Homo sapiens: one gene and its partners. The protein of the gene in region 3 interacts with the protein of the main gene of each other region in a pairwise test. Each region holds a gene or a part of one and is shown on either strand. Other genes may lie near its edges.

Evidence for each region.
Region 1: the proteins of DLG3 (region 3) and KDELR1 interact in binary tests that used the Homo sapiens proteins (3 or more experiments, as listed by UniProt).
Region 2: the proteins of DLG3 (region 3) and EIF4H interact in binary tests that used the Homo sapiens proteins (3 or more experiments, as listed by UniProt).

Annotation. Positions count from the first base shown.
Region 1 is NC_000019.10:48,381,802-48,388,697, forward strand, and holds the end of KDELR1 (ER lumen protein-retaining receptor 1), read right to left. Parts: intron 2,682-6,896; coding exon 2,429-2,681; intron 1,527-2,428; coding exon 1,492-1,526; 3' UTR 774-1,491; downstream 1-773. UniProt on the Homo sapiens protein: Receptor for the C-terminal sequence motif K-D-E-L that is present on endoplasmic reticulum resident proteins and that mediates their recycling from the Golgi back to the endoplasmic reticulum.
Region 2 is NC_000007.14:74,177,042-74,184,460, reverse strand, and holds part of EIF4H (eukaryotic translation initiation factor 4H), read right to left. Parts: intron 1-7,419. UniProt on the Homo sapiens protein: Stimulates the RNA helicase activity of EIF4A in the translation initiation complex. Binds weakly mRNA.
Region 3 is NC_000023.11:70,496,699-70,504,117, reverse strand, and holds part of DLG3 (disks large homolog 3), read right to left. Parts: intron 6,939-7,419; coding exon of another isoform or gene 6,897-6,938; intron 5,599-6,896; coding exon 5,548-5,598; intron 4,943-5,547; coding exon 4,841-4,942; intron 4,242-4,840; coding exon 4,069-4,241; intron 3,648-4,068; coding exon 3,538-3,647; intron 3,221-3,537; coding exon 3,129-3,220; intron 1,956-3,128; coding exon 1,849-1,955; 3' UTR 1-1,848. UniProt on the Homo sapiens protein: Required for learning most likely through its role in synaptic plasticity following NMDA receptor signaling.

The DNA of each region.
Region 1 (6,896 bases), on a different chromosome or scaffold from region 3:
ATGAGGACCCAGCATTGTTAGACTGATGGATTTTTTTTTTCAAGAGAAGCCAGAAATGTGAAAATCTGGTTTTTAAAGGCTAGCGACCCATTCTCTTTTTTTAAGGAAACAGAATGCCTCAACAAAAAATGTCAAGTGAGGGTAGGACGGGGGCTGCCCATGTGTGGTCCCTGACATACATGCTCTTTTTTTTTTTTTGAGATGGAGTCTCACTCTGTTGCCCAGGTTGGAGTACAGTGGTGTGATCTCGGCTCACTGAAATATTCGCCTCCTGGGTTCATGCAATTTTCCTGCCTCAGCCTCCTGAGTAGCTGGGACTACAGGGGCACACCACCACGCCCAGCTAATTTTTTTTTGTATTTTTAGTAGAGACGGGGTTTTGCCATGTTGGTCAGGCTGGTCTCAAACTCCTGACCTCAGGTGATCCGCCCGCCTCAGCCTCCCAAAGTGCTGGGATTACAGGCATGAGCCACCATGCCCAGCCAATTCTCCTGAAGGTCCTCTGCAACCCTGAGGGTTTGGAGAACCATCAGACAAGTTCTGTGCCAAGGTAAGAAGACTCTTCAAGATTCTCTCCAAAACCTCTTCCCAGCAGCACGGCGAGGAACTGCACAGCTGAGAGTCTTGGGAGACCCAGTTTCTCCTCTTCCTGCTCCTCCTAGGCCTCGTCGCCTACAGATAGTCAATAAGGCAAAAGCAGAAGCAGAAAGAGGGGCGGGGGCGGGACCCCATACACACCAGGGACAGAGTGGCAAGGAGCAGCAAAAGAAAGGTTTCATTTTCTTCTGTTTATTTCAAGAGAACAAAGATTCAACCATCAGTTCTGTACAAAAACATGGTGTGAGAGCCATGGGATCCTCGGGCCAGCCCCCTTCCCGCACTTGAGCCCCGGGCCCCCCTAATTTGCCAAAAAACCAGGAGAAGACCAAAAAATTCAAACTCTGGGGAAAAAAATTACTATGAAAAAAAATCAGGGGAGACCTTCCTGGGCCTCCCTTTCTCCCTATCCCCAATCTAGAAATTTAGTGGGGGTCGCGGTTCATGGCCATGGCAGGAGGTGGGGCAGATGGGTGTCGGCAGATTTAGTGTTTGGCAACCAGTGGGGCTGGGGGTGGGATCTGGGAGGGAGCCGAGGGGCCTGGGGAAGGGAAAAGATCTTGGACCCTGCCCCGGCCCATAGGACACTCAAAAACACTTTATAAAAATTGGGGCCACAGAGTAGAAGAAAAACGAGTCATCAGAATCAAAAACTAAAGAGTGGAAAGATTTTTTTTTCTTGTCTAAAAGGCAAAAAACTACAAACAGCCCAAGTCCTGAGCTCCCCAAGACCTGGATCCTCCACTGTCCCCCTGAAACCCGGCAGGAGGCGGGATGGGGAGCACAAGAGGTGGGTTCTTAAAAAAGTCACCCCTGGATGGGAAAGCTCTTCATCTTCTGCCGCCTTCCTCTGCCTCCCGCTGCTGCCGAGGAGAGAGATGGAGAGGACCGGGGCTATGCCGGCAAACTCAACTTCTTCCCCTTTAGGACTGTGAGGAGAGAAAACAGGGAGGGCATTACCGCTGGGGCCCCTGCAGGGAGGGGACAGCCTCCCACAGCCAGAGCAGGGCAGGCACGCTAGATGGGCAGATCCACAGGGAGGGAGGTCCCCCAGGACTCACAGATACATTCCTGGTTTCTTTCCTTCCTACCCTTTCTCACTACTGGCAATTTTCTTTCTTTCTTTTTTTGAGACAAGGTCCCACTCTGTAGCCCAGGCTGGAGTGCAGTGGCATAGTCACAGCTCCATGCAGCCTTGACCTCCTCAAGCAATTCTCCCACCTCAGCCTCCCAAGGAGCTGGGACCACAGGCGTGCACCACCATGCCCAGCTAATTTTTTTATTTTTTTATTTTTTATAGTGACAGGGTCTTGCTATGTTGCTCTGGAACTCCTAGGCTTAAGAAATCTCCCTGCCTCAGTCTCCCAAAGTGCTGGGATTACAGGTATGAGCCACCATGCCCAACTAATTCTTTCTTTACTTGTTCATTCACCATCTCCCCCACCAGAATAAAAGGGAAATGGAGGCCTTTGTCTATCTTTTCTCCTCCTAATGTATCCCCAGAGCCTAGCACCTGGCTGGGGACATAGAAAGTACTCAATACATTTGTTGCATGAATAAATGAATGAATTTCAGTGGGCTGAGTCCCTGCCCTGCCTGGCCTACGCTCCAAGTGACATGGGGGCTAAGGACAGAAACTCCTTAGCCCTTAGGGAGGCAGAGGCTAACGGTCTGAATTCCTAGGAGGATGGTAGGCCTGCCACCCCAGAAACCCGGCGAAGAAATGCTCCCTTCTTTGCATAATACAGGGGTAAGGAGACCCCAGTCCCCAGGGAGGGCAGGAGCTGCAGAAATAGGAGGTTCCCTTCCAGCCGTCCCACATTCCAGCTACCTTTGGTGATATAGAGGTAGAAGAAATCGCAGTAGAGGACTGTCTGGACCAGGCCTGCCACAATGGCGATGAGGTCGAAGAAGCCCTCGAAATGGTAGCGCCAGATCCAGTTGAAGAGATAGAGCGTGCGGTAAACGCCTAGCGCAAACAAGTAGTGGCTGGTGATGGTCTCCGCCTCGCCGGTCTTGCTCACCATGAACAGCTGCGGCAAGATGGCCACTGACTCCAGGTAGATGGAGAAGGTCCAGAGGATCTGCAGAGAGGCCGGGGACATGATGAGGTGGGAGGGGACAGGGCGGGAGAAAAGGCAGAGGACAACATTGCAGTTACAGGTGCCGCGAAGGTGGAGAGAAGGAAGGTGATCCAGGTGCTGCCAAGTGCCAGACACAGTTCTGCCCGAGTTACTGGTACCTCTGATTTAATCATCACCATGGCCCGGCGAGGAGATCCTATGATTAGCACACTTATTCTACAGATGAGGAAACTGACACCAGAGAAGGTAAGATACTCGCCCAAGACCATGTAGCCAGCAAGCAGCAGAGCAATGATTCGAACCAAGGATTCGCAGTCCGTTCTCATGAACACTTTGCAATTGCGCCTCTCTGAAAGGCAGGCTGGGTTGGAATCTTGCCTTGGAAATTTCCCTTCCTTTTTCTTTTTCTTTTTTTTTTTTTTGAGATGGAGTATCACTCTGTCACCCAGGCTGGAGTGCCATGGGGTGATCTCGGCTCACTGCAACCTCTGCCTCTTGGGTTCAAGCGTTTCTCCTGCCTCAGCCTCCTGAGTAGCTGGGATTACAGGTGCCCACCACCACACCCGGCTAATTTTTGTATTTGTAGTAGAGACAGGGTTTTGCCTTGTTGGCCAGGCTGGTCTCGAACTCCTGACCTCAGGTGGTCTGCCTGCCTTGGCCTCCCAAAGTGCTGGGATTACAGGCATGAGCCACCGTGCCGGGCCCACATGCCATTTCTTGTGGCAGGCTGCATATGCTGTTCCCACAGCAGGAAAAGCTCTTCCCCTACACTGTCACACATCTGCCTCCTCCGTATTCTCCCAGCCTCAGCTCATTAGTCACCTCCCGAGAGGGACCCTCCCTGGCCATCCTTCCCCCAGGACTGTCACATCACCCCATCTTATCTCCTTCCTGGCCACTCGCACCAGCAATTGAGCTCTGTGAGGGCTGGGATCCTACTTCTTGTTCACCCCGTGGCCCTAGCACCTAGCACAGTTCCTGAATGAGTGAGGAAATGGGAGTTAGCATCTATAAAGGGGTCCCCATGTGCTCAGCACAGGCCACCATTTAGGGAGCACTGACAACCATCATTCATGAGCAGGACAGGACATCATGGGACAGGGAAGAAGACATCTGCCAGCCCCCTTTCAGTCCCCAGCTCCCTGAAAGTGCCACCTGGGGTGATCTGTGATCTGCAGACACACTGAAACCTCAGAGAGCAAAGCCAGGTGGCAGGTGTGGCTCCTTGGTTGTCTTGGTTTGTGGAAGGAAGGTGGGGGGCACCAGGACCTATTCATAACAACTCATGCTTTTCTAGCATTTACGACATCCAAGGCATCGCTCCTTAGGGTGTTAACTGGCCTGAGCCTTAACCCCATGAGGTAGGTACTGTTGTCATTCCCATTCTACAGATGAGGAAACTGAGGCCCAAAGGATAAGAAACGTGTCCAGATTCCCACTGAAGCACGTAGAGTCCAGGACCTGCTCCCAGAATCATCCAGAATCCTCCAGGGAGGCTCTCGTGAAGCCAGGTTAGTTGATGCTGCTGGGAAACGAACCCATTAAATTGATGCCCATTCAACTCTCACCCCTGGGGTTGCCCTTAGGGAACAGAGTCACCGTTTAAAGAGAGACAGAAGGTCTGTTGCTTTTTTTTTTTTTTTTTCCTGAGGCCGAGTTTCACTCTTGTCACCCAGGCTGGAGTGCAGTGGCGCGATCTCGGCTCACTGCAAACCTCCACCTCACGGGTTCAAGTGATTCTCCTGCCTTAACCTCCCAAGTGGCTGGAATTATAGGCACTCACCACCACGCCCTGCTAATTTTTGTATTTTTTTAGTAAAGACAGGGTTTCACCATGTTGGCCAGGCTGGTCTTGAACTCCTCACCTCAAGTGATCCACCCACCTCACCCTCCCAAAGTGCTGGGATCACAGGCGTGAGCCACTGCGCCCAGTCTTGCATTTTTATCTATTCCATGCTGTTTGAATTTTTTTTTTTTTTTTTTGAGATGGCGTCTTGCTCTGTCACCCAGGCTGGAGTACAGTAGCACGATCTCAGCTCACTGCAACCTCTGCTGCCCGGGTTCAAGTGATTCTCCTGCCTCAGCTTCCCGAGTAGCTGGGATTACAGGTGCATGCCACCATGCCCGGCTAATTTTTGTATTTTTAATAGACAGGGGGTTTCAGCATCTTGGCCAGGCTGGTCTTGAACCCCTGACCTCGTGATCCACGATCCACCTGTCTCAGCCTCCCAAAGTGCTGGGATTCAGGCGTGAGCCACTGCGCCCAGCCTGATGTCTGAATTTTTAAAGAATATTTTCCTTAGGTCAGGCACGGCAGCTCACACCTGTAATCCCAGCACTTTGGAAGGCTGAGGCAGGTGGATCACTTGAGGCCAGGAGTTCAAGATCACCCTGGTCAACATAGCAAAACCCTGTCTCTCCTAAAAATACAAAAAAATTTTACCTGGGTGTGGTGGCTCATGCCTGTAATCCCAGCTACTCGGGACGCTGAGGCACGAGAATTGCTTGAACCTGGGAGGCAGAGGTTGCAGTGAGCAGAGATCGTGCCACTGCACTCCAGTCTGGGTGACACAGCAAGACTTAAAAAAAAAAAAAAAAAAAAGACGCCTGGGTTCTGGTCTGGCCTCCTCCACCTTCAGCAAGCCGCACTACCTCCCTCAGCCTCAGTCTCCCCATCTTCAAAATGGGTCTAGTAATCCCTAGTCAACAGGGCAGTTATGAGCTAAGTCAAGGGCTTGGATAAGTGATCCAAGCAAGGTGGTAACAATATGTTTGCAAAGTCCAGGGCCTGGAGCCAAGCCCAGGATTCCCACCACAGCATGATGCAGCCTCCCTCTGATATCTCTGACCCATGGGCCAAAGTCACCCTCTGTTGGATTTGTCTGGCCTATACAGTGCTTTTAGAGATATGTTTTGAAGGCCAGGCACGGTGGCTCATGCCTGTAATCCTAGCACTTTGGGAAGCTGAGATGGGAGAATTGCTTAAGACCAGGAGTTCAAGACCAGCCTGTCAACATGGTGAAACCCCATCTCTACTAGAAACACAAAAATTAGCCAGGCGTGGTGGCAAGCACCTGTAATCCCAGCTACTCGGGAGGCTGAGGCAGGAGAAACGCTTGACCTGGGAGGCAGAGGTTGCAGTGAGCCAAGATCGTGCCACTGCACTCCAGCCTGGGCGACAGAATGAGAGTCCATCTCAAAAAAGAAAAAAAAAAAAAAAAAAGAAATATAGTCTGAATCTGTGGCTAAAATTTTAAAATGAGACATCTTGCCTGAAAACTCCTGAATTATGGCTTCTGTTGAAAAGATCAGCACATCTGGCCACCCAGGCCTATCTTCCTATAAGGCAGGAGTGGGCACAGGTAAGAAAAGGTTACCCTGAATTTATGATTCCTGCCAGGCCCCAGGAGGCAAGAGATCGCAAACTTAGCACTGGCTCTCGCAAAATTCCTCCCAGGAGTTTGTACAGGTCCCAGCAAAACACCATGGAATAAAAATCATTAACAGCGAACATTTAAAAGTAAAAGTATCAGAGATGGGACTAAACACTTCAGTCATTGAACATTGATTGACACAGCACTTCCTACCTCATCCCAGATACTGTGCTTTATTAATACCAACCTCTCATTTGAACCCTATGACATAGGAACTGATTATCTCCATTTTACAGATGAGGAAACTGAGGCACAGGGTAGTTATGTGATTTGCCCAGAATCCCATAGCTGCTACATGGTAGAGGCAGGGTCCAAATCCTTACACTCTGATTCTAGAGTCTTTATGTGTTTTGACACCAGGCAGTGCTGCAAAGTCTCAGTAAATTCTCACAATGACCTGATCACAACTTTACAAATGTGGAAACCGAGGTACAGAGAGGTCAAGTCACATGCACGGGATCATGCTAATAGAAACTAGCAGATTTGGAGCCGGGCGCGGTGGCTCATGCCTGTAATCCCAGCACTTTGGGAGGCTGAGGAGAGTGGATCACCTGAGGTCAGGAATTCGAGACCAGCCTGGCCAATATGTTGAAACCCTGTCTCTACTAAAAATACAAAAAATAACCTGGCTTGGTGGTGGGCATCTGCAATCTCAGCTACTCGGGAGGCTGAGGCAGGAGAATCGCTTGAACCTGGGAGGTGGAGGTTGCAGTGAGCCAGAATCATGCCACTGCCTCCAGTCTGGGCAACCGAGCGAGACTTTGTCGAAAGAGAAAGGAAA
Region 2 (7,419 bases), on a different chromosome or scaffold from region 3:
GTGTATGAATGTGTAACATATACATAAAAACTAAAAAGGAGGGTGAGGATGAAGAGAGATGATAAACTCTCGGGTGTTTGATGTAGTTGCTAAGTAAGGAAAATGGAGGTGCGAAGGCTTGCTAATTGTGCTCGAACTTACAGAGTAGAGGAACTGTGGAACTGAGATCAGGCCAGACTTGACCCCTGATTGAGCACAGGAAGCCCAGGTGAATGCCAGTAAGATGACGGGGCACTGCTAAAAATGCACTAGGACAGGAAGGTGGCTCTGGCTTTGGAGAAGATAGAAAAATCTAGTTTGGGGCAAACCATTTTTGAAAAGTTGGCACGTTACCAAATGGCAGCACCTAACAGCTAACTGGTGATATAATTCTGGAGCAAAGATACACCAAAGCCCACCAAACTGTTCAACTCACTCGTGCCTCACAAAACCACCAGTGGCTTAATACTCTAGACTTTTCAATAATTACCAAAGTAGTCCTAAATATTCCCATACCCTACCTGATGTAGTCCCTTCTACAGGTCTTAAGCACTTTTTACCTTTTCATCCCATTCAATGAAATCACTAGGGGGCAGCAGGGCTGGGCCATGGAGGTAGACCTCATTCAAGCTAGCACTGGTAAAGTGTCCACTGTGTGACAGTCACTTGAGACACATCACATAGGATGTGAGTACCCCAGAGTACACATCACATAGGATGACATCACATCACATCACATAGGATGACACAGATCTGTTACCCACCGATTCATTTACAAAATCAAATGTCAGAAAACTCTGAGCTAAAATGTCTGCCACCTTTCACTAGATTCAAGTTTGGGGGACTACTACCTAAATAAATAAGCTGTGTTTCGTGAAATTCAGTACATTCCTACACAGATCAATAACAACACATGGGAGAACAGGTTCACTTGACACCTTAGCTAGCTTGATGTAGGACCTCTGCCAAATTACCTCTGTACCTATGTTTTCTTGTCTGTTATATTTCAATCTTGATTTTATAAGTTTAAAACTGACCATAAAAACATTTCCTAAGTACCAAGTGCTATATAATTCTGCCATGCTCCTGGGTAGACCCAACAGGCCTGAGGCTACACTGGGCTGGCAGGAGTGCGTGTAGAACAGGAACAGATCAGCAGAGCGTGCCAATTCAGGACACCTGAAGTCAAGGTCTGTGCTGCAAACTCCCTGCCACTACTGAGCAGTGTCCTTTCTACTGCCCATTAGGGACAGTCTATTGATTATGAAAGATTAAAGTAGTCAATTACAGCCTCAGTAATTTAGGAAACCCTACTTTCGGCTCCAAGTGTGACTAAAATCCTTGACAGGCAAATCACTTTTCCTTACTCAAATCAACCACGTATCTGCATGTCTATGAAGGGTGGAGAGAATGTAGAGAAGGCACAAACCTAAGACTCGGTTTCTGCCCTCAAGGAGCTGATAATTTGGAAAGGAGAAATCACGTCACAAGCAAAGGACTGCAGAAAATCTGGAAGATAGCAATGAGAACAGTTTCACCAGGGTGGAGCAGTTGGGAGCCAGGATATGCAGCACAGCAGAGAGCAACAGAAGTGGGACTCCACTTCCAGATGGCAGATGGGGCCAATACTGAACCCTTAGGGTGAGCCAGAAAAGATCTGTAGGTGTCAAAGGAGACTGAGAGAGGGTAACTATAAAAAGAAGCCAATGTACAGAGTAGATGTTATGAGGGTAGGGATGTATCCAGTAAGTAGATGCAACAGAAAGTTGAGTGCTCAAGGCTGGGCATGGGCATGTGGCTCCGGCCTGTAGTCCCAGCACTTTGGGACTGTGATTGTGCAACTGCACTCCAGCCTGGGCAACAGGGCAAGACTATGCCTCCAAATTATGAGACACATCTCATTTAAACCTCCCAACAGAGGAGTTTCTAGCTCTCATTTGGGGAAAGTAGGGCCCAGAAGGGTAAAGTAGTGTAAACCAAAGAAAATGACTGGCCGGACGCCATGGCTCACACCTGCAATCCCGGCACTTCGGGAGGCCAAGGTGGGGAGATCACTTGAGCTCAGGAGTTTGAGACCAGCGTGGGGAACACGGCAAAACCCCATATCTACAAACAGGTAACATTTGGGTTTTTGACAATCATCAAAAATGGTTAAGCTTTCAAAGGTCAAGCCTTTGATAAATACCATTTATACTACCTATTATAAACCATAGTAGTATAGAGAAGAGTGGTCACTTAAAGAGTAGGTAATGGGTATACAGGTCACTATATTATGCTTTGGTTCGTGTTCTAAATTTTCTACATTTTTCTGTAATGTTTTGCATATTCAAACAATCCAACTATACAAAGTCATCTTTGCAAAAACTGGGAAAAACTGAACACTGGGTACTGGAAAAACTGTTGGTTAAAGAAAAAAAAGAAGCCCTTATCTGTTAGAAACATACTCAAGTATGAAAAGTATGTAAGAGGCCGGGTGTGGTGGCTCACACCTATAATCCCAGCACTTTGGGAGGCTGAAGCGGATGAATCACAAGGTCAGGAGTTCAAGACCAACCCGGCCAACATGGTGAAACCCCATCTCTACTAACAGTACAAAAATCAGCTGGGCACAGTGGCAGGTGCCTGTAATCCCAGCTACTCGGGAGGCTGAGGGGTGGTGGCGGAGGCTGCAGTGAGCTGAGATCGCGCCACTGAGCTCTAGCCTGGGAGGCAGAGTGAGACTCCATCTCAAAAAAAAAGGCCGGGCTCGGTGGCTCACACCTGTAATCCCAGCACTTTGGGAGGCCGAGGCAGGCAGATTACCTGAGGTCGGGAGTTCGAGACCAGCCTGACCAACATGTAGAAACCCTCTGTTTCTGCTCTATCTCTGCTAAAAATACAAAATTTGCCAGGTGTGGTGGCACATGCCTGTAATCCCAGCTACTCGGGAGGCTGAGGCAGGAGAATCGCTTGAACCCAGGAGGCGGAGGTTGTGGTGAGCCGAGATAGTGCCACTGCATTCCAGCCTGGGCAACAAGAGTAAAACTCTGCCTCAGAAAACAAAACAAAACAAAAAACAAAAAAAACAAAGAAAGAATATATAAGATACATCTACTACGGTAGCCATAAAAATTGAAACAAAAATTGCTCTAAAGTATGTAATATTTACCAACACAAAGATGAGGATTAAAATTTAAAAAAATAAGAACTATTTTAGAAGGATAGGTGACTAGGATTAGCCTTAAATTATCCTAGCCCACACCTCCACCCAAAAGTAGGGAAGATAGATGTAACAGAAATAGCCAAAATGTTTATGAGGTTAAAACTGGGAAAGGAATGGAGTTGTTTAGTGGGTATAGAGTTTCTGTTTGGATTATGAAAAGGTTCTGGAACTAGATAGTGGCAATGGTTACACAACACTATGAAGGTACTCCATGCCACTAAATTGTACACTTAAAAATGGTTGAGGCTGGGCGTGGTGGCTCATGCTTGCAATCCCAGCACTTTAGGAGGTCAAGGCAGGAGTATCCCTTGAGGCTAGTTCAAGACCAGCTTAGGCAACAAAGGGAGACCCTGTCTCTATTAAAAAAACAATTATTTAGCTCAAGCAGCAGTTCTTTACATTTGTGCAGTCTCTGAAGAAGGCCAAGATGTAATCCTTTGGTCCTATTCTGGCCTGGAGGGCCACACCTTTCTTCCACTCAGCAGTCCCAGAGACTTAAGAGCTGCTGTATCACTGCTGCTGAGGCTTCTTTCGAAGGTCCTCACTGAAGCTGCTCAGCCCTTCCTCCTAAGATGAAGTTTCAGAGCCTGGCCATCCCCACTATCACCTTCTTCTTCATAGGCTCCAGTGTGCTGATGCCTTAAAATATGGTTCCCAGAATGGTTCACAATATTCCACATTTATAAAGCAAAGACCTATACTGATCTCACAACAGGTCTTTGTGTTAATACAAACGAAGGCAGGGGCATCAAACTACATTACTCATGCTTTCCCACCATGCACTTGAAGTATTTAAAATAGGAAGAAAAATCACAGCTTCAATTAGGAATATCCTTGGTAAAGCAGTAAAAATGAATCGTGACCCACTTTTTAGTACCCTATGTTATGAAACACGCAAAGCACTTCTGCTGCATACACAAGCATGATGGCTGCTGCAGGAAAAGCACTTGAGCTACAAGCTGAACTAGCTGTTCTTTCTATAGAACAAACTATGGTTAATTCAGACATGGGTACTAAGTTTTTTAAAAATGAAGTTAAGTCTGTTCCTTGAAGTAAAAGAACAGTATTTGGGTTTTTTGTTTTGAGACAGGGTCTTGCTCTGTTGCCCAGATTTGAGTGCTGTGGTGCAATCACTGCTCACTGCAGCCTCAATCTCCAGGACTCAAGTGATCCTCTAGCCTCAGCCTCCCAAGTAGGTGGGACTATAGGCATATACCACCACACCAGCTAATTTTATTTTTGAAAAGACCAGGTCTGGACATATTGTCCAGACTGGGCTAGAGTGATCCTCCTGCCATGGCCTCCCAAAGTGTTGGGATTACAGACATGAGCCACAGCACCTGGCCAAAATAACAGTATTTGTTGCCAATGGTAAAATTTAAGCTTTCAAGCAAAAAAGAGTTTCGGAAAACCTGTATCCATCAACATAAGCCTGACAGTCTTTCAATACTCAGAGACTTTTCTAACAGCTATGGTGAATGTGACTTTGATACTGTATAACAAAATGTACCAACATCTGGAACATCTGCATGGCTCTGCCTGGCTCAGTGAACAGGTCCTTTCCAAATCACCAACACCTTACAAATGTATGCACTGGTAAAGGATCCAGTCGGAGTACAAGATAAAGTGACTTTTTTTTTTTTTTTTTGATACAGAGTCTCACCCTGTCGCCCAGGCGGGAGTGCAGTGGCGCAATCTGGGCTCACTGCAAACTCCACCTCCCAGGTTCAAGTGATTCTATGGCTTCAGCCTCCCAAGTAGCTGGGACTACAGGGGCCCACCACCATGCCCAGCTAGTTTTTGTGTTTTTAGTAGAGATGGGGCTTTGCCATGTTAGCCAGGCTGGTCTCAGACTACTGACCTCAGGTAATCCGCCCGCCTTGGCCTCCCAAAGTCCTGGGGTTACAGGAGTGAGCCACCGCGCCCAGCCAAATGATGAACTCTAATGTAAAAGTATGAAGAGTTTATTGATAAGGTTTTAGGTTTCACATTGCAACTAACCTTCATAGAAACTACTGCTTATTGAGTTTTGGTATAGAATCAAATATGAATATCCAGAATTATTTGATTACTCCTCCCATTTCCAACTATTTATCTGTGCAAGGATTGAGCTGCTCCATAAAAGTCAACCAAAGCAACACATTCCAAGAGTGGAGACAGATGCAGGTATGAGAATCCAGCTGTGTTCTATTAAGCCAGACATTTAGAAGGCTCCAAAAATGTGAGTACACAGAAGGCTCCAAAAATGTGAGTATACATGAAAGACAGGAGAAGAATGTGCAGAACAAAGGGAGGTGACGGCCCCCCTAGCCCTGAACTGGAAGGCCATGCTTAACCAGAGACTCATCAACCGTGGAGCAGCCACATACTTGAGCTCCTTCAGAAGGTCCTGATCAAGACGGAAAATCACATAAATCATGACGTGGGGAAACTTCGAAGAACATTCGACTTACACAAAAGAAGTCTTAGACGTACATACAGCTGCCATTAGGTTCTATGAAAATGATGCAATCACACTCATTTCATGCCCGGGTGTGCAGGTCTAATCAGCATGATGTAAAAGCAACCAGGCGACAAATACTCTCCTGAACCTTCCAGGGGAAGCTGGAAGCCAGAGTGTGATCCTGGAAAGACATTCAGAGTCTGCTTTGTACGTTCTAAGCTTCCAGGGAGACTCCTTAAAATTGTGAAGTCTTTCCAGAACACTAAGCTTAATTTTTCTTTTTTTTTTTTTGGAGACAGTCTCTCTCTGTCGCCCAGGCTGGAGGAGTGCAGTGGCATGATCTCAGCTCAATGCAACCTCCGCCTCCCTGGTTCAAGCAATTCTCCTGCCTCAGCCTCCCAAGTAGCTAGGATTACAGGTATGTGCCGCCACACCCGTTTTGTATTTTTAGTAGACATGGGGTTTTGCCACGTTGGTCAGGGTGGTCTCAAACTTCTGGCCACAAGTGATCCGCCTGCTTCGGCCTTCCAAAGTGCTGGGATAACAGGCATGAACCACTGCACCCAGCCACAAAGCTTAATTTCTAATAGAAACATAAATTGAAGGCTGGGTACTGTGGCTCACACAATGAGCCTTGGGAGGCTGAGGCAGGAAGATCCCTTGAGCCCAGGGGTTTGAGACTAGCCTGGGCAACATAGAGACACTCTGTCTCTACAAAAAAATACAAAAATTAGCTGGGCATGGTGGCGCACCCTGTAATCCCAGCTACTTGGGAGGCTGAGGTGGGAGGATGGCTTGAGCCTGGGAAGTCGAGGCTGCACTGAGCTATGATCCTGCCACTGCACTCCAGCCTGGGTGACAGAAGGAGAGCCTATTTCATAAATAAATACATGTTTCTAACTCATATGTGGGGAAAACGAGGCTCAGAGAGGTGAAGAAACTTACTTCAGATCACACAACTAACACATGGCTGAACTGATGAAACTCTGGTCTGCCTTATTCCAAAGCCAGGGCTTTTACATGAACCGTCATGCAGAGACCTCTTAGCAAATCCAAATATTTCTGGTAACACTTTTCATAGAGGATAATGGTTTGGAACTAAGCAATGGAACACTTGGAGTGAAGAAGGATAACAAACCTAAACGACTTGACATTTGACATGTAAACAGCATTTTAAAATAAGCTTTTCAATAGCTTTACAGGCCCTAGCATCAGTGAAAACTAGCTGTAGTTTTTATACACTGCTTTCCTTCCTATTACATACAAATCTTAAAATATGCTCAGAGACAGGAAGTAGAATGGTGGTTGCCAGGGACCTGGGGGAAGGAGGGCAATAGGGAATTACTATTCAAAGGGGACAGGGTTTTAGTTTTACAAGCTGTAAGAGTTAAGGAGCTGGATAGTGGTGATGGTTATACATTACGAATACACTCAATATCCCTGAAATGTATACTGAAAAATGGGTAAAGTGGCACATTTTATGTTATGTATATTTTACCACCATAAAAATTTTGGATAAAAATATGCTCAGAAATTTAGACAGACATGCTAAGTTTAAAGATTCAAAGGTTAGAATTCTAAACTCCTAGGCTGGGCGTGGTAGCTCATGCCTGTAATCCCAACACTTTGGGAGGCTGAGGCGGGAGGATCACTTGAGTCCAAGAGTTCAAGACCAGCCTGGGCAACATAGTGAAACCCATCTCTATTTAAAAAAGAATTCTAAACTCCCTAACTGAATCCTGATAAAGAATAAATTTGGAGTTTTGCCAGTTTTTAGATGGCACCATTTCAGCCA
Region 3 (7,419 bases):
AGCCGCTGTCCTTTCCTTATCCTCATCCTGGGTCCCATGCTTTATACAGTTAGCCTCATTCTGCTGGTTGGACAACTGTTAACAGAGTTCCCGGATTCGGCTGGTAGTGCTTAAAGCATCCTCAACATTGCCTCGCTTGCACCAGCCCTAACCCAGCGGGCTAGGAAACAAGTGCCTCAATCCTAGGGCCAAGCACTTCTCTGTTCTCCCCTGCGTCGTCCCTCCAGTATGGAGGCGAGGGAGGCACGTTGGCTTCAAAGGAGCACAGTGGGGTGGGGGGGGACCTGAACCACACCTGCTGCCTGCACTTGTGGCGGTGAAGATTCCCTTGATCACAGTCACTGCCATCAGACTCTGGGAAAAAGCAACAAGGTTTCACAGCTCACCAGTAAGCGAATCTTAGCTCTACAGCTCAAATGTACAGCATAAAGTCTACTTTCCTCTTGAAGAAACCATAAGCTACCAGCTGTTGGGGAGGGGCTGGAGCAGAGCATATGAAGCAGCTGCAAAAAAAAAAAAACCAAATCAAACTCATGACGCAGCTGGCCAAGCAAGCCAAGTGCTGTCCCGCCATCCCAGCACAGAACTGGAAGGCAAGTGACTCCCTGTCCCTGTTGGTGGAACCCAGGAAGGAACCTCAGCAGAGCCCTCCGTGTCCTCCTCTCAGCCCAGCCCCTGCTTTCCCTTCTGCTGACAGGACAACCAGGCCTGTGTCACCTACTCCATCACAAGGCCTGGCTCCTTCAGGACCTCATAAGCCTTTAGAACCTTGGCAAATTGGATTCTATGCATTCACTTAAATAGTAAAAGTAAAATTTGCAATAATGAAAAGGCTGACACAGTAGCACAACATGGTTTTGGTTTAACAGCAGCTTAAAAAGGAACAAAAAGGAAACCTCTCATGCAGACACATCAGGTGGCATAAAACAATAGGCAATTCCACGCGGAGCATCATTAGCCATTCTCTCTGTCCGCACACAGGACTCTGGCTGCACCTCAGGGGCAGCAGCTGCTTTCAGGTCAAGTCTCTCACCCTCTCACCCCAGGCAAAAGCCCTTCCTCTCCGGCCTCAGGCTGACCCCTCCTAGCTCTCAAGAGAATGACCAAATGCGAGTGCCCTTAGTGCAGCACTTGCTACCATCTTCAATCCCTTCCCAACCAGCTGGGATAGAAGATGCCATCTGATTGGAATATGAAAATTAAAGCATTTCTCTAATAACATAGTACCATTGATGAAGTCTCCATAGATTTTCTAACCCAAATGTGTGTGAATATATATATATTATATGAGAGTGTATAATATATATATATAATAATTTCTATATATTTTATATAAATTACATATATATATCTATATATAAATAAGATACTTTCTGTCGCCATTACGTTGCACCGTTCAGAGCTGCAAGACAGCAGTACAGATAGGGAGAAATGCCCAGGAGCATCTCATCATGTGGTGCATTTAGCTCACTTCACAAGCCGTGCAGCTGTCCAGAGTCTGTCTTTCCATCAGTCCTCCTCTTTTCTCTTCACTTCTGCTTGGTTTTTATGAAAACAATGGCTCTGATGGATTTTGCACCTGTGCTAGCGCTTGGGAAAGGTCCATGCAGGAATGGGCACAGTCACATGATGAATGAGATGGCATCATCCCAAAAAATAAACTGAAACAAACAAAAACTTAAAAAAAAAAAAAGAACAGGACTAGAAAACTTAATTTTTTTTGACATATCTAAAAAAGGGGACAAGAACAGTAGCATTTGTTCTCCCCATGGGGACAGGAATGAAGAGGGAGGAGGGAAGAGGGACTTGATTTCTTCTGTTCACAAGAGAATGGTTGGAGGGGATTCTTCAGAGTTTTTCAGGGGATGGGACCCAAATGTAGTGCCCAGACTGGTCCTCAATGATTTGTTTGATTTTGTTATAAATCTCTTCCAGTGAGTCACCCTGTACAATGGCTAAAGTGAAGAGGAAAACAAAATTATTACTGTGGTCCATAGCACATCCCCCAAACCCAGCAATCCTGCCTCTCCCAACAATCCTACAAGTCCCCCCTCCACCCCCTCACCCCTCACATGAAGGACATGTTCCCAGGAGTATGGGTTTGGGCTTGGGTTCACTGGCTGGCTGCCTGTGTGTTCAGGGCAGTAAGGGCAACCAACAAGGTACCCCAAGTCCAGGGCTTGAAGTCAACTCACTGAGACAGTGAGACTAAGTAGTAATGACCAGAAAAATGTGTTTATTCAAAAGATGTTTATTGAGCACCCACTATGTGCCAGACCTTGCAGTTCATGTTGTTCTTGGGTGCCATAAGGCCAGCAGCTTGTTATTCTAAAGCAGCCTTACTAAAAGATTTGGAAAATCGCAGTTCTCCACAGAAAGAACTGAAAGCCACAATTTCTGGCAAGAGGCAGCGCTCCTGGGCCCATCACATCTGCTGTATGTCAGAGGTCAGCCCAGCAAACAAGGACATGGATGCTGATGGTAAAGGGAGCTCTGAAGACCCAAGGTGTGTGAGGACATTTATGAATTCTTTACACAGTTAACCTAGTGTCACCACCAGCTAGAATGGATTCGGCACTGCCTTGCATATATTTATGTATATATATGTCACTGTACTTCAAAAGGTGAAGAACGTATTACATAGAAACCTTCCCAATGTTTCAGGAACTGACCTTACACACACACACACACACACACACACACAGACAGACAGACAGACACCCCAACAGACAACTTGAACAGCACACCGAGGAATCATCATCATCAACAAACGTTTATTCAGCACCTAAACATGCAAAGCAAAGTACTGGGGGAGGGGGAGTGGAGCTGAAACGGAGGGAGACAGAGTAATACAGGGAGCCTACAATCTAGTAAGGACAAGACAAAATGAACAAACCAACAATTCAAGGAAGCATTTGGTGAGTGGTTTATGCTATAAACTGGCTGAACTGCTATGGCTGGACACGGGGAACTTGTGTGCTTTGGAAAGGTTTGTGCTCAAAAACTTAAAAGCAACTGGAAACTCCGTGCAAGGTTTCTACATTCTGTCTACACCTCTTTGAGACACTTATAGAAACAGGTACCTGGCTAGTTCCCCAGAACCCCCCGCAGGGCAGCAGGAGTCTTACCTGTAAAGTACTCTCCAAATTCCTGCTCCAGTTTCATGGCTTTGTCATAGATCTTATTTGCTTGTTCATATGTCTGCCTTCGGTTCATTTCCCTGCCAAAGACAGAAGAAAAATAGTTCTGAACCAGATCTTATGTTCTGATTAACCATAAAGGATTATTCCAGGATCCCTAAAAATCTGCTAAGCTGCCCTCTCAGAGCAGCAGTGGCCCGTAGCTAACTCCTCAAACCTGCGTTCAAAAGTCCAACCATGAACATATGCACAAGCCCTCAAAACAGGAGCGCCCAGTGACCAGAGCTGGGGCACAGAGTTTCTTTCAAGTTTCTGCCCAGCAAATCACTTTCTTCTCCATTTCCCTTCCAGACCCGATCTTAGCTTGGTGTGTCTGAGTTCTCAGTTCAACACTTACATAAGGGCTTCAATGGACTTGGGCTTGATGAAAATGGCAATGGGGTAAAGTTGTGCTTGCTGCAGTCTCTTGATAGCATTGCCGGAAACATCTAAGATGCAGTGCTTGCCCTGAAAAAGCAGAGATTGTAACAGCCCAGCCACTCCCTATTCACCAAGTCCCAAGCAGAAATCCAGTGACATTCTAAACATCCACCTTGGCCGGGGGTGGGGGTGAGGGGAGGGGCACGAGGGCCACCCAAAGTGGCCTAAGAAATTCGATCTCTGAAGTAGACAGGCCCTACTTTTTGCTCCTATTACCCAGAAAAGGCCACATCTGTCCAGGGCCCCCTATTCCCTGTTGGGTAATGCTCTGGGGTGAGTTGTATGAAGGAGACAGATAGCTTCGTCAAGGCGCTGGGAGTATGCAGATGTGCTATGGCTTTGGTCAGCAGCACTGTTGGGCAGCTCCTGTGTTGGAAGGATAAGGATCCAAGTGGAACCTTGGCATAAGCATTGGCCTCCCCTTTGAGGCCATCTCCTGTACACTTACCCTCTCTGCAACTGCCCGCACTGACTGGATGCTGGTCCCATAGAGGTTATCATTAAATTGGCCCGCCTCGATGAACTTGTTGTCCTGAATATCTTTCTCCATTTGTTCTCGGGACACCACAAAGTGGTAGTCTTGTCCATCCACCTCATTATCACGTCGAGGCCGGGTAGTATCTGAAGGAAGAAAGGAAATGCTTTGTGGCCCAGGGGCAGTGATCCGCCCCAAACCAAAAAATACTGACTGGTCCATTCTCATCTGGGTGGGTCACTGGGCCACTCCATTTTTTTTTTCAAGTAAGTGGGAGAAAACAAGCAGTTGGGAAGCGGTTTGTCTGGCCTACTTCTCTTCCAATCTCCAGGTCTCACACAGGGGGCTATTTGCTTTAGCTTAAACTGGACTAGAAAGGTGGGGTTTCCTGAGCTAAAGCATGGCAGAGGGTGCCAAACTTGGTAGAGGAGACAGTGAACCTAACAAACTGTTAATGGAGTCACATCAACACCACTTTGGCTGGGCCTCCGTATTTGTCCAATCATTCTCAACCATCACCACTGAAACTTCCCCTCAAGAGTGAGCAGCCAAGCCTGATGGCTTAATCTCTCCAACCCCATCAGCTTTTGGGGAATATATTGCCACCTACTGTTTTCCAGCGTGTCAAATGTACCCTGTCCCCAAATAGCCCTAGAATCTGATCCCAGACCTTTTCCATAAAACATTAGAGCAACAATTCCCAGGGCACCAAGCCTCACTCCTCTGGGCCTTCCTGGACTCTTACGTGGCACACAGGATCCAAATTTATGTGGAAATTCGGAGATCAGGTCATCATTGACTCGGTCCTTCATTGGGCCCAGGATGATCACAGGCCTTGCATAGTGAACTAGAGAGGGAGAGCATCGAGACAGTGAACAGAGGCCCCCACCAGACAGCCTGTCCTACCCCTGAGTCTGGCTAGAACACAGAGGCTCTGGAGCAGAGACTCAGACAGGGTAAAGCATCCTCAGACATTGTCTGGCTTTTAAACAGAAAGACATCAAAGAGCCTTTAATTTGAGAATATCTAAGTTCAAGGCAAGTCTGAAACCGGAAGCTGCTCCCCTTCTAACAGAGTCAGAAAAAATCTCTGCACTGACACCAGTAACTGAGCAAGGTTTTTGCAGAGCAGCCACTGAAGGGAAGAACCTGGACCTCTCTTTTAGCAGTGGCTACATCTACTGAAATAGACTTTCCTTGTAAATTTGCCCCCTCCTTTGGAAGGTGTCCTGGCAGCAGGCAAAGGCACAGAGAGAAGTGCACACTGGATGCACCCCCTTCCCTATGACACTAGGAAGAAGCATAGAGAAGAAGGAGCCCAGGGGCTGGATGTGCCATGAGTCAAGCCTTCCTCCTCCTCCAGGTCCCTCCCTCTGCTGCCACAGCCACCCACTGTATTGAGCCCCACGACCAGGAGACCAGCACGAAGACAAGGCTCTCAGAGGAGGCTTACTTTCTTGCCGTGTCACTGGCTCATATGACAAAATAGCATCCTCTTGTCCTTCTGCAACAAAAAAGAGAGATAGGTTAGCACCATATGATCTGCCTCCTTCTGTACAGTACTCCCCGTACCCCTCCCCTGCCAGGACACAGCCTTATCAGGTGGTCCTTGCCACCACCTGTGATCCTTTCTGTTTTCTGCTGGTGAGAAAGCACATGAAACCCTTCACTGGCTCTGAGACAGGAGTCAGCAGTTCTCTTGTTCAGTGAAATATCACTGGGCAAAGGGCCAAGGCCCAGAAGCCATGAAGCCTCCACCCCAAACCACCCCAATTTGTGAGGAACTCTTCTTGTAGGTAACAAGTCAGCTGTGTGCAGTAGCCCCCTTGCTCTGGTAAGAATGACAGGGACACTTTGACTGGTTGAGATGCTTGCCCGAGTCCCCTTCATCAACATGCAGGGGAGTCAGGGCACACACCCAGGTCCCCAAGCAGCCTAACTTTGCCCTTTTAAAGGTCTACCAACCCACCTCCTGCATTGGAAGCAGCATCCAGAAAAGTGGCACATGGCTCTGCTAAGGTCCCCAGTGCCCTTTAAGAGCAATGCTGAACCTGCTGTCTCTTCCTGGTGGAGCCCCATGTCGAGCCTAGCAATGTTGAGGTTTTCCTAAAACAGTCGTCAAGCCACTCGGTGCTGGGTGCCTGGAGGTCCCAAAGTGGCTGATGGCAGTCCCAGGGAAAACAGTGATATTTGCATCAAGGCACACAATGCTTGCTAAAAGGCTTCTTCTGAGCCTAATATTCCTGGGCAGATTTTACAAGGCTTCTAGCCACCATAGCTCCTGAAAAACCAGTGCTCCCAAAGTTCATGAGGTTTGAATTACGGTTTCTCTGGTCTGGTCACAGGATCTCCCAAGGAGAACTTGGCAATTACCTCATCCTTTAACTGGCCCCAAAGGCAAAGAGGTCCTAATGACCTGGAAAGGCAGATTTAGGGCAGTGTCCTAGAGGAGCCATTTTTCTTTTGGTCTCTGAGCAAATCTATAAACCTGGCAGCACCTATGGCCCACAGTACCCATGGCAGGGATTTACTCTTTGGCAGTTTACCCTTCCCAGTGCCAGGGATGCTTTTAAGTCAGGTCCCGGCCAGCACTATAGGGCTTATACTCTCCTTTAATCCATGGGGTGAACCCCAACCCATAAGGAGAATGAACTGGCCACAGCATTTCTAGGATCTCAAAGTGTACATGGCTAAAAGAAGCACCAGCCTCTGAGCAGCAATGGCAGCTGTGCAACACTGGAATGAGGATGGCTGGGATACACAGTGGAGCTACACGACATGGAAGGAATGACACACACTTACTGGAACTGCTTTCGCTGTCACTGGTGTTGGATGTCACTCCCTCTGCAAGCCAACAAGAAAGAGACTCCAATTCAGAACACACCACTGAGAGGTCACATGCAGCACAAAACTCAAATGCTCCAGGAGCGAGACACTGAGCTGCCAACTGAGTCAGGCCACCAGAGGCCTGCCACATCCAGGCTACCAACTGGGAGGCACAGCTCCAATCCTGAGCCCCTGGCCCTCTCGTACTTGTCCCCAGAGCCCTCTTGGTCTGCCAAGTCCCTCCCTATGTACTACAAGCCATACTTCCTTCAGCAGCATCCTCTTCATCTGAATCAAATTGACCTGGATGGTTTCCAAATCGTATTTCAAAATGCATCTCCCAAGGCTAACAACAGGAAAGAAAAGACAGTGACAGGAGCAAAGAGAAGTCCAGGGACCAGTCTGCTCATGGGTGTCCCCCGCCCAACAGAGCCCCTGAAGTACAGAACCATGTGGCACTCCACAACTAAGAGGCCAAACGCTGGATGGGTTAAGCAGA